Linked DNA regions of Homo sapiens. The protein of the gene in region 2 interacts with the protein of the main gene of each other region in a pairwise test. Each region holds a gene or a part of one and is shown on either strand. Other genes may lie near its edges.

The links.
Region 1: the proteins of MAK (region 2) and SLAMF7 interact in a two-hybrid assay, tested with the Homo sapiens proteins (one large-scale study listed by BioGRID and IntAct).

What each region holds. Positions count from the first base shown.
Region 1 is NC_000001.11:160,751,476-160,756,494, reverse strand, and holds the end of SLAMF7 (SLAM family member 7 isoform a precursor), read right to left. Parts: intron 4,310-5,019; coding exon 4,247-4,309; intron 3,390-4,246; coding exon 3,318-3,389; 3' UTR 1,674-3,317; downstream 1-1,673. UniProt on the Homo sapiens protein: Self-ligand receptor of the signaling lymphocytic activation molecule (SLAM) family.
Region 2 is NC_000006.12:10,796,584-10,802,064, forward strand, and holds part of MAK (serine/threonine-protein kinase MAK), read right to left. Parts: intron 5,477-5,481; coding exon 5,309-5,476; intron 1-5,308. UniProt on the Homo sapiens protein: Essential for the regulation of ciliary length and required for the long-term survival of photoreceptors. Phosphorylates FZR1 in a cell cycle-dependent manner. Plays a role in the transcriptional coactivation of AR.

The sequences.
Region 1 (5,019 bases), on a different chromosome or scaffold from region 2:
CTTCTTTCTGCAACTAGCTTTGGGACAGAATTTATTGAGTGTCCAGAGACCAGATCTATTGGTCTCCCTAGGTCCTGTTTCAGTCACTGGTTTAAAAAACCCCAAAGTATGATTAACCCTAATTATTTATCATCTGAATGGGTTCTGAGGAGAGAGGGGAAGGCAGAACAGATGCATCCTCAGTCCCAGCATCCCCCTCTCCACGCCTCTGTCTTCACACACTGTGAAGCTCCCCTCAGCCTCCAGCAGCCCTCTCTGAGGGAAAGTCATCTTCTCCTCTGTCATTATGTGGAGGGTTTCTCCTTTCTCCCCACCCATTCTCACTCGAGGAGGTCTTTCCATCCTCCCCCACACCCTTACCATGAGGGTCTCAGACTTTCCCCTCAACCCCACGTAGTGAGTAGTGCCTCGTTTTTCTCACTGAGCACCTATTTAAAATTTCCTCTACTCTATTATGCAATACATACTTTCTCATTGAGGAATATTCAGAAAATGAATGAAAATAGGAAAAAACCAAGCCACCTAAGCTTTCACCCTCCCTAAACAACTGGTGTTACTATTTTGATGTTTTTTCTTCCAAATTTTTCCCTGTAGAGATTTTTTCTAAAACACAGCTGTAATCATATAGCACATTAAATTTGCATTCTACTTTTTATATTTGTGATGTCATAACATTTTCTAACTTGAAAACCCATAGTTGTTGTGTTGTTGTTGTTTTGTGAGTCAGAGTCTCACTCTGTTGCCCAGGCTGGAGTGCAGTAGCACAATTATAGCTCACTGCAGCCTCAACCTACCAGGCTCAAGCGACCCTCCCTCTTCAGCTCCTTCCTGAGTAGCTGGGACTACAGGCATGCACCACCATGCCTGGCTAATTTTTGTATTTTTTTGTAGAGATGGGGCTTTGCTAAGTTGCCTAGGGTGGTCTTGAACTCCTGAGGTCAAGTGATCCTCCTACTTCAGCCTCCCAAAGTGCTGGGATTACCGACATGAGCCACCACTCCTGGCCAACCCATAGTTTTTTTTAAACAATTTTTTTTTTTTTTTGAGACAGAATCTCACTCTATCATCCAGGCTGGAGTGCAGTGGTGCGATCTCGGCTCACTGCAACCTCCACCTCCCGGGTTCAAGAGATCCTCCTGCCTCAGCCTCCCAAGTAGCTGGGACCACAGGCACATGCTAAAAATTTGTTATTTTTAATTTTATTTTTGATTCAGAAGCTACATGTGTAGGTTACACAGGTATATTTCATGATGCTGAGTATAACCCATAATTCTTTTTTTGAGATGGAGTCTTGCTCTGTCGCCTAGGCTGGAGTGCAGTGGCGCGATCTTGGCTCACTGCAACCTCCCCGTCCTGGGTTCAAGCAATTCTCCTCCCTCTGCCTCCCAAGAAGCTGGGATTACAGGGGCTCACCACCATGCCCGGCTAATATTTTTTGTATTTTTAGTAGAGACGGGGTTTCATCATGTTGGCCAGGCTGTTCTTGAACTCCTGACCTCAAGTAATCCACCTGCCTCGGCCTCCCAAAGTGCTGGGATTACAGGCGTGAGCCACTGCTCCCGGCCTAACCCATAATTCTTAATGTCTATGTATGAACAGACCTTCACCTGTGGTGGTCAGTTTCTTTGGCAGTTTCCAGAATTTCACTATTGCAAATAGCAAAATAATGCATCTTTTTGTATGTGAATCTCACAATATCTGTTTTATTAAGATAGTAAAGAAGACTTTTTTACTACAATAGGGTTTTGCAGTAGGGAGAGAGATCTGGCTCAATTCCTTCACAATGCCTTTCTGAGAGAAGATAATCCTCAATCCCATTCTTGCCCAACAAGCATTTGTTATTAAGTTTTTCAACACTTTCATCACTTGGTAGGGAGGTCTCCATTCAAGATATGTGTCAGGGAACATATCAAAAGCAGCCATTCCCCTTTCCCCTTCCCCATGTTTTTCACTTAAGTATAAGAGATGGTGAGCTCTGTATTGGTAGGGATGTTCATCTTACGTGCCAGACTGACCTAGCACAGGTGTTTGTTTGTTTGTTTGTATTGGAGTTTTGCTCTCGTTGCCTAGGCCGGAGTGCAGTGGTGCCATCTCAGCTCACTGCAACCTCCACCTCCCAGGTTCAAGCGATTCTCATGCCTTGGCCTCTCGAGTAGCTGGGATTACAGGTGCACACCACCACGCTCAGCAAATTTTTGTATCTTTAGTAGAGATGGGGTTTCACCATGTTGGCCAGGCTGGTCTTGAACTCCTGACCTCAGATGACCCACCCACCTTGGCCTCCCAAAGTGCTGGGATTACAGGTGTGAGCCACCATGCCGGGCCGCATAGGTTCTTAATAAATATCTATTGAATGAATTAACCATCTTTAAAGGTTTACAAGTACCCACTGCCCCCCGTGCCCCACCAGTCTCACTGCCTGACTCCAAGTCTCCTACACTAGATTTACAATGTGACTTCAGACTCGGTCTCTTTATTGGGATGGGTTCTGGCACAGCCTTAAAACCTAGACTTTTCTTTTGCAGCACAAGTGCATAAATGAAGCCTGGCTGGAGGTCCTTGTCCTTGGGCCATGCACACTTCTGTGTCTCCATTATAGTATCTGCCAAACATGGTCAGCTACCCTGATTCTTCATCTTTGTGAACTTTGACCTTCAAGTCCTGTGGATCCACACCTGGCCCTCTGGGAATCTGTGGTCAGGCCTGCTACAACTGCTCATGAAAGTAGTTCATTCATTTGGAGCCAATTTCATGAGGGCAGACAGCATGTCTGACCAATTAGTGTAAGCTCAGCATAGTGCTGGGCACATAGTTTATAGAGCCAATTAATACATCCATTTTTGTCAGGTGCATCTGCTTCTGCTGGACTTGTCTGTCTGTTTTGGTCTTCTTGCCCTCCTGGTAGCAAGACTCTTGGTATAATCCTGACATCCAAGCCCTGGGATGGAATGAAACTCCAGACACTGACCTGGAGCCATCATTAATACAACAGGCTGTCATTAATATGTGTGACCTTGCATTTACATTTTTATAGGAATACTTCTAAGCACTTTTTTTATGGTTTGCTGACATTCACAATCCCATTTTTGGGATGAAGTGATTAAACCTTCTGGGTTTGAGGAGATTTCTCAGCAGTGGATGGAATTATGAACTCTTAAATCTAAAGAAGCATCAGAGATAATTTATCCTGGAAAAAAGTCAACGTTCTTCATTCTTCCTTGATGTTTCTAGTCAAATCAGTGAATTCTTCTGATTGTTTTCTTTGGGCCGAGAATTGTTTTTTTTTTGAGCAGAGACTTAGGGGAGTGCACTGCTGTCTAGATAACATTCTCATAGGCAAATAGCCTTGGTGTGTCTGGCATCGTGAGCAGTGAGTGGGGATTTTCCATCTGAAGACAGACAAAAAGAAAGTAGAGTGAGGGAGGTGAGCAGGGCTCTGGATCGTCCATGGAGACCCTGACATCCAGGAAACTTTATTTCCAAGGTTACCCAACCCAAATCGGCTGGCATGCTGGCTCCCACTGTTTGATTTTAATCACCCCTAGCTTAGAGAAACTATTCTGTAAGTTTAACGCATATTTATCTTGCTGAATGCTTAATGAACTGAACTTTCCTTGTTCAGTTGTAATAATTCACTAAACCAACCTTTTCTATTACTAAGCAAACTGCTTTAATGATTCTTATCTTTTTGGATCTGTTTGGGAGAGGAAGAAAAAGGAGACAGAAAGATACCATTACTGCTGCCAACCGTACTCTGTGAAGGAATAAGCCTTAAAGCTACTGCATTAGTAGTTTAACTGAGGGGAGGGTGCAAAGCAGATGTAACATAGCTGGACCATGGGAGAAAAGTAGAGATCTCTCCCTCCTGCAGTTTCCTGGTGTCTCAGGAGAAAGCTGGACTCTCCTCTCAGCTATTCCTCTCTTCATTCCATGCACAATCTAAGCCATGGTCTTTTTCCTTGTCTGCAACTTCAGTCAGAAGGCTTTTGATTTTCTTTATTATTCCGATCTAGAACCTCTGTCCTACTCTATTTGTTCCAGATTACCCAATTCGATTCCTAAAACACAATTCTCTTCCATCCCCCATGTTCTTGTATAACCCTAAGCAAAGGGAATGGGGAACTACTAGGGTACTTTTTAATTCTAGAGAGTATGAGATACCTGGGTCCAAGAAATTTTGACCTAAACATGAAGCAGGAAAAGAAATGGAACCATTAAGATGAAGTTAAGCTCTAAAGCTTCTTACCTTTTTCGGTATTTCCACAGTGGAGTAAACCGTATTTGCTGGATCTTCCTTTAGGATTGTTCTCTTTTAAAAACAAACAACAAACAAAAGAAATCATCACCCACCTCCTGAATCACATAGACAAGGCCAGAGAGACATTCAGAATCCAGAGAGGGGAAAGCAGAGATGGGAGGAGATGTGAGAGGAAAAGGAGGGTTCTGGAACAGGGAAGGGAGGTAGGAAGTTCTCTTGTTGGTGACTGCTATTATAATAAATTTTGATAACTTTTTTCAGGAAGCCATTACATTATTTTTAAACTGTACTGTGTTAAAATGAATTTCAAAAATATTATATATATATGTGTGTGTATATATATATATATATATATATATATATATATATATATAGAGAGAGAGAGAGAGAGAGAGAGAGAGAGAGAGAGAGAGAGAGAGATCTCTAGAGAAGTCTTCTGATACCATGATTCAAACATCCTGTCAAAGTCACACTCTTCTACCCACTGCCTTATGCAAAAGGAATCTGGCCTTTTGTGTGGCCGTTATGAACTGTGGAGGGGAGCAGGTGATTTCACAGACCACAGCATGAGCATTGTGAGTCAGAACCAGGTGCTCCAGAGACCACCAGCTTCTTCTGCACAGAAGAGAATCCATGAAGACTTGGAGGAGGCACAGGTGCATTGAGTTTTAAGTCTATATATCCTCACTCCCCTCTTCATTCCCATGTTGTCCAAACCCATGGAAAAACCTCACAAGGAGAGCCTCAGAGACAGGATCAGT
Region 2 (5,481 bases):
TCACTTGCGGTCAGGAGTTCAAGACCAGCCCGACCAACATGGTGAAACCCAGTCTCTACTAAAAATACAAAAATTAGCCAGGCGTGTTGGTGGATGCCTGTAACCCCAGTTATACGGGAGGGTGAGGCATGAGAATCGCTTGAACCTGGGAGGAGGAGATTGTAGTGAGCCAAGATTGTGCCACTGCACTTCAACCTAGGCAACACAGCGAGACTCCACCTCAAAAAAAAAAAAAAAAAAGTACTAGTAGGAAAAAATAGAAAGCTCACTTGTTATTATAACATCTAAGCAAAACAGCTGTTCTATTTATTTAAAGATTTGTTAGTGAAAATAAAATGTAATTTATAGACATTGGCTAAATTAATGTGATTACTTCAAGCTAAAATACTACACACCAATAATGGTTTAGAGTACACTCAAAGACATTAAAAAGTGAATTAAGAAAATCTTCCATATAGATTATTTGAAATGATTAACCAGAGCTGTATGTAAAATTCCGGGTTACTCTCAGCCTGAGTACAACAATATACCTACTAGTAATAAAAAAAAAATCTAAAGAGGGGACAACAAACACATACTGTTGAAGTTTATTTCATCGGTATACCAGCAAAGAGAAGACATTTATGGGAAGAAAATATAAAAATATTATGAAAAATGATCACTGTTTGAGTTTTATCTAGATCAGTCACCTGACTGCTTGCATGAGAGGGAAAGGACCCCCTGGTGTATGGGTGGCACCATCTAATAGCAGTGCTTCCCAAATGGAGGCAAGTTTGCCCCTTGGGAGATATCTGGCAATGTCTGGAGACATTTCTTATTATAATGACAGGGGTTGGGGGACGCTACTAGTGTCTAGTGTCTAGAGGGCCAGGGACATTGCTAACTATCCCATAATGCACACAATAGCACCCCACAGCAAAGAGTTATCTGGTTCACAACGTCAGTAAGGCTAAAACCGAAAAAATATTCTACAGAATGTCTAAAGCCTGTGTAGCTCAGCTATGGAAAAATTCCCTTATTGGCATCAAATACCTGGGCAAAGTAGCTGGTCATTTTTGGGGGGATGGGTTCCTTAAGATGGTCAAGCTCTGTTCCCCTGAACCTCCTGCCTTTAGCCAGTCCCCACATAGGTGGGAACATAGCCCTGACCAACAGTTAACTCCTCCCATGTGTAAGGGCAGTTTTTAGAGGAACAGAAGGCAGCTTGGTACTTTAAATGGTCTTCATATTCTACAACTTAACCAACCTCTCTCCCTAATTAGGTCTTTCCACTTCCACTAAAAAGCAGGGCTGTGAAACAGAGCACAAGAAAGAGTTTGTTAAGGGTTACTTGCATTCTCAGTGGAATACACAAATATACATAATTTGAATACTTCAATGCCTAGCACACTGAAGGTACTCAAATTCTGAATTAAGTCACATTAAGTAATTAGTATGTCAATATTCCTAAATTAATGATGCATATTTTGGAGCTGGAAACTTTGAGGATGTGTTTTGTAATTTCAAGGCTTTATTTATAACAACTCTTCCCTTTTTTTTTTTTTTTTTTTTTGAGATGGAGTCTCGCTCTGTCACCCAGACTGGAGTGCAGTGGCACGATCTTGGCTCACTGCATCCGCCTCCTGGGTTCAAGCAATTCTCCTGCCTCAGCCTCCCGAGTAGCTGGGATTACAGGCACACGCCACCATGCCCAGCTAATTTTTGTATTTTTAATAGAGACAGGGTTTCACCATGTTGGTCAGGCCGGTCTCAAGCTCCTGACCTCGTGATCCGCCCACCTTGGCCTCTCAAAGTGCTAGGATTACAGGTATGAGCCACTGTGCCCGGCCAACTCTTCCCTTTTAAGATACTTTAAGATACCAGTTACTATCCTTCAAGAAGAGGGAAAACTTTAAAAATTAATAGCATTTATTTTTTCCTATTTACTTAAGGGAAGCAGTGATCATTGTAGAGAATGAGAAACGTATAGAGTTCTCAAGACAAAAATAAAAATTTAACACCCAGAGACAACCAAGACTAACATTTTTTATACTTTTCGGTATTTTTTTCTCATCATATAAAATATATTTTTCAAAAACAAAATCATATTATTTGTATAATAGTATTTTAGCATGAGATTTCTCCCAAATTATTTAAAAATTTTATTTTACAAATTCACTGTTAATGCTGGCAGTATATTCCAAATTAAAGATGCACATAACCTAAGTTTAGAAACATTATTTATTTATTTATTTATTTATTTATTTATTTATTTATTTATTTTTGAGACAGAGTCTCACTCTGTCACCCAGGCTGGAGTGCAGTGGCACGATCTTGGCTCATTGCAACCTCCGCCTCCTGGGTTCAAGCTATCCTTCTGCCTCAGCCTCCCGAGTAGCTGAGATTACAGGTGTGTGTCACCATGCCTAGCTAATTTTTTGTATTTTTAGTAGAGATGGGGTTCTGCCACGTTGGCCAGGCTGATCTCAAACTCCTGACCTCAAGTGATCCGCCTGCCTCGGAAAGTGCTGGGATTACAGGTGTGCGGCACTGCAGAGCCACCGCACATGGTTGGAAACATTTTGATTAACTTTCAATGTACAGTTTTCTATTGGAATTGAACATCTTTGAGCATAATTTCTGATTGTCTTCAAGGCTCTTTTTATATACTACAAAATTACTTTCTCTTACTAAGAGAGATAAATGAAAAACGGTATCTCATTTCTACTTGCATTTTATAATAGTAAACAAAGACTGAACATTTAAAAAATATTTTTTGTAATCTGTATTTCTTTTCCTGTGTTTCTTTTTCATGTCCCATTACTACTTTTCTTTTTAAAATACATTTGAAAAACTTATTATGTCTTTATTATGAAGGTAATGAATGTTTAGAAAAATTAGAAAATATGGGCCAGGTGTGGTGGCTCACGCCTATATTATTTCAGCACTTTGGGAGGCCAAGGCAGGAGAACTGCACGAGACCAGGGGTTTGAGACCAGTCAGGACAACATAGTAAGACCCCATCTTTAAAGAAACAAAACTTTCAAAAAATTTTAAAAAAGAAAAATTAGAAAATACACTTAAACGGCTGGGCACAGTGGTTCATGCCTGTAATCCCAGCACTTTGGGAGGCCAAGGCAGGCAGATCACCTGAGGTCAGGAGATCAACAGCAGCCTGGCCAACATGGTAAAACTCCGTCTCTGGCCAGGCACAGTGGCACATTCCTGTAATCCCAGAACTTAGGGAGGCCGAGGTGGGTGGATCACCTAAGGTCAGGAGTTCAAGATCAGCCTGACCAACAAGGTGAAACCCCATCTCTACTAAAAATACAAAAATTAGCCAGGTGTGGTGGCAGGCACCTGTAGTCCCAGCTACTAGGGAGGCTGAGACAGAAGAATTGCTTGTATCTGGGAGGCGGAGGGTGTAGTGAACCGAGATCACGCTACTGCACTCCAGCCTGGGCGATGGAGCGAGACTCCGTTTCAAAAACAAAAACAAAAACAAAAAAAAACTAAACAAAAAAACCCCTCTGGTCTCTACAAAAATACAAAAATAAGCCAAGCGTGGTGGCGGGCACCTGCAATCCCAGCAACTCGGGAGGCTGAGGCAGGAGAATCGCCTGAACCCAGGAGGCGGAGGTTGCAGTGAGTGGAGATCATGCCACTACACTCCAGCCTGGGCAACAGAAACTCCATCTCAAAAAAAAAAGAAAATACACATACACATTTCAGTATTTTTCTTGTGTTTCTGTAGGAGTATTATATTAAGAATTAAAAATAATTTTCTCTGTCTTATCTTTCCATTTTAAGATTTTTACATAGAGAAAAATTTTACTTTTTATGTAATCAAATTGTTTGAATCTTCCTTTTGTGGTTTCTTCTATTATTTTTATACCCGTGTTTTTTCACCTTGAGATCAAATACACATGTATGCTTTCCTTTTGTTTCTAACAGTTTAGGGTGCTTTTTTTTTTACACTTTGAAAATGTAATCCTGGTCGGGCGCGGTGGCTCACACCTGTAATCCCAGCACTTTGGGAGGCCAAGGAGGGCAGATCACCTGAGGTTGGGAGGTCGAGACCAGCCTCACCAACATGGAGAAACCCTGTCTCTACTAAAAATACAAAATTAGCCAGGCGTGGTGGCTCATGCCTGTAATCTCAGCTACTCGGGAGGCTGAGGGTGGGAGAATCACTTGAACCCAGGAGGCAGAGGTTGCGGTGAGCCGAGATCATGCCATTGCACTCCAGCCTGGGCAACAAGAGTGAAACTCCATCTCAACAACAACAACAAAATGTAACCCTTCTGTGAGTTGTAAAGTATGGTGAGCAGTAAGGACCTCAATTTATTTTTTTCCCTAAGAGCTAATGAATTTTCCCAGTATCACCCACTGAGCCGTCCTCCCCTCTTTGTGATGCCACGTTTGTTTACCTTGTGCTGACTCATATGTTCTGCAACATTCAGCTATTTGTCAATTCTTATGCCAGTACTTCCACTGTTACCATCATCAATTTAAAGATTACTTTAATATCTGATGGGGCAAGCTGTCCATCCCTATCACCGCTCTCTAATTCCTTATTCTTGTTTTAACATATCTTGACTATCCTTTCCCATTTGTTCTTCCAGATGACATTTAGAAAACATTTTCTCAAGATTAATTTTAAAAAAAGCAAAATAAATTTTTGTAATTTTCACATGGAATTTATATTTAAATGATGAGAATACAATAAAGTTTATTATTGCCTTTTTATTGAAGCCTTGCAGACAAAAACACTGGGTTTAAAGGCCCTAGACTTGGAATACATCTGTAGATATGTCAGGTGTAGTCACAAAGGAACAAAGCCTGGGTGCCACAATGCTGCCCTCTTGTGGCAGCCAGAGGCTGCACACTCCAGTCCCAGCAAGGGATGATACTGTTGTATAAAGTGAACCAGAATCCCACCCCTAAACTGTAAAGGCAGCATAGGAAAGTCTACTATGTGGAATGATTCATGAGATGCCTTTTTGCTTCCATGACAGATTCCTTCATAACTAGTCTGTCGCAGGTCTGAATTTTTATCATTGCAGATTGATTCCTTGTTGCAACCTCAGGGTTCTTCATTTGAACCACAAAACTCAGAAAATCATTGGTGTGGCTATTTCTGCATTTCTCCCAATGATATTATATGCCTAGAAATTAATTTATTACATACGCTGGATGCCTAGGACTTTGTGTTTAATTCTCTTAGTAAAATCCTGGTTGAGAATAGACCTGCCTTTGTAAATGAAAACATCCCTGATATTACAAAACCTAAACATTTTTAAAGGTCTAACAGGAAGACTCCTCTTACCTGGCTTGCTGTCGGTCGTTTCTTTGGATCCCAATTCAACATTTCGGTCATGAGCTGAATAGCTTCATTACTGGCATTGGGAATAAGAGTTTTTAAGTTTATAGGAACACACTGGGGAAAACGGAAGTTCATAGAGGATGCCAGCTGGTATCCTTCTGGCCAGTCACTCTGTT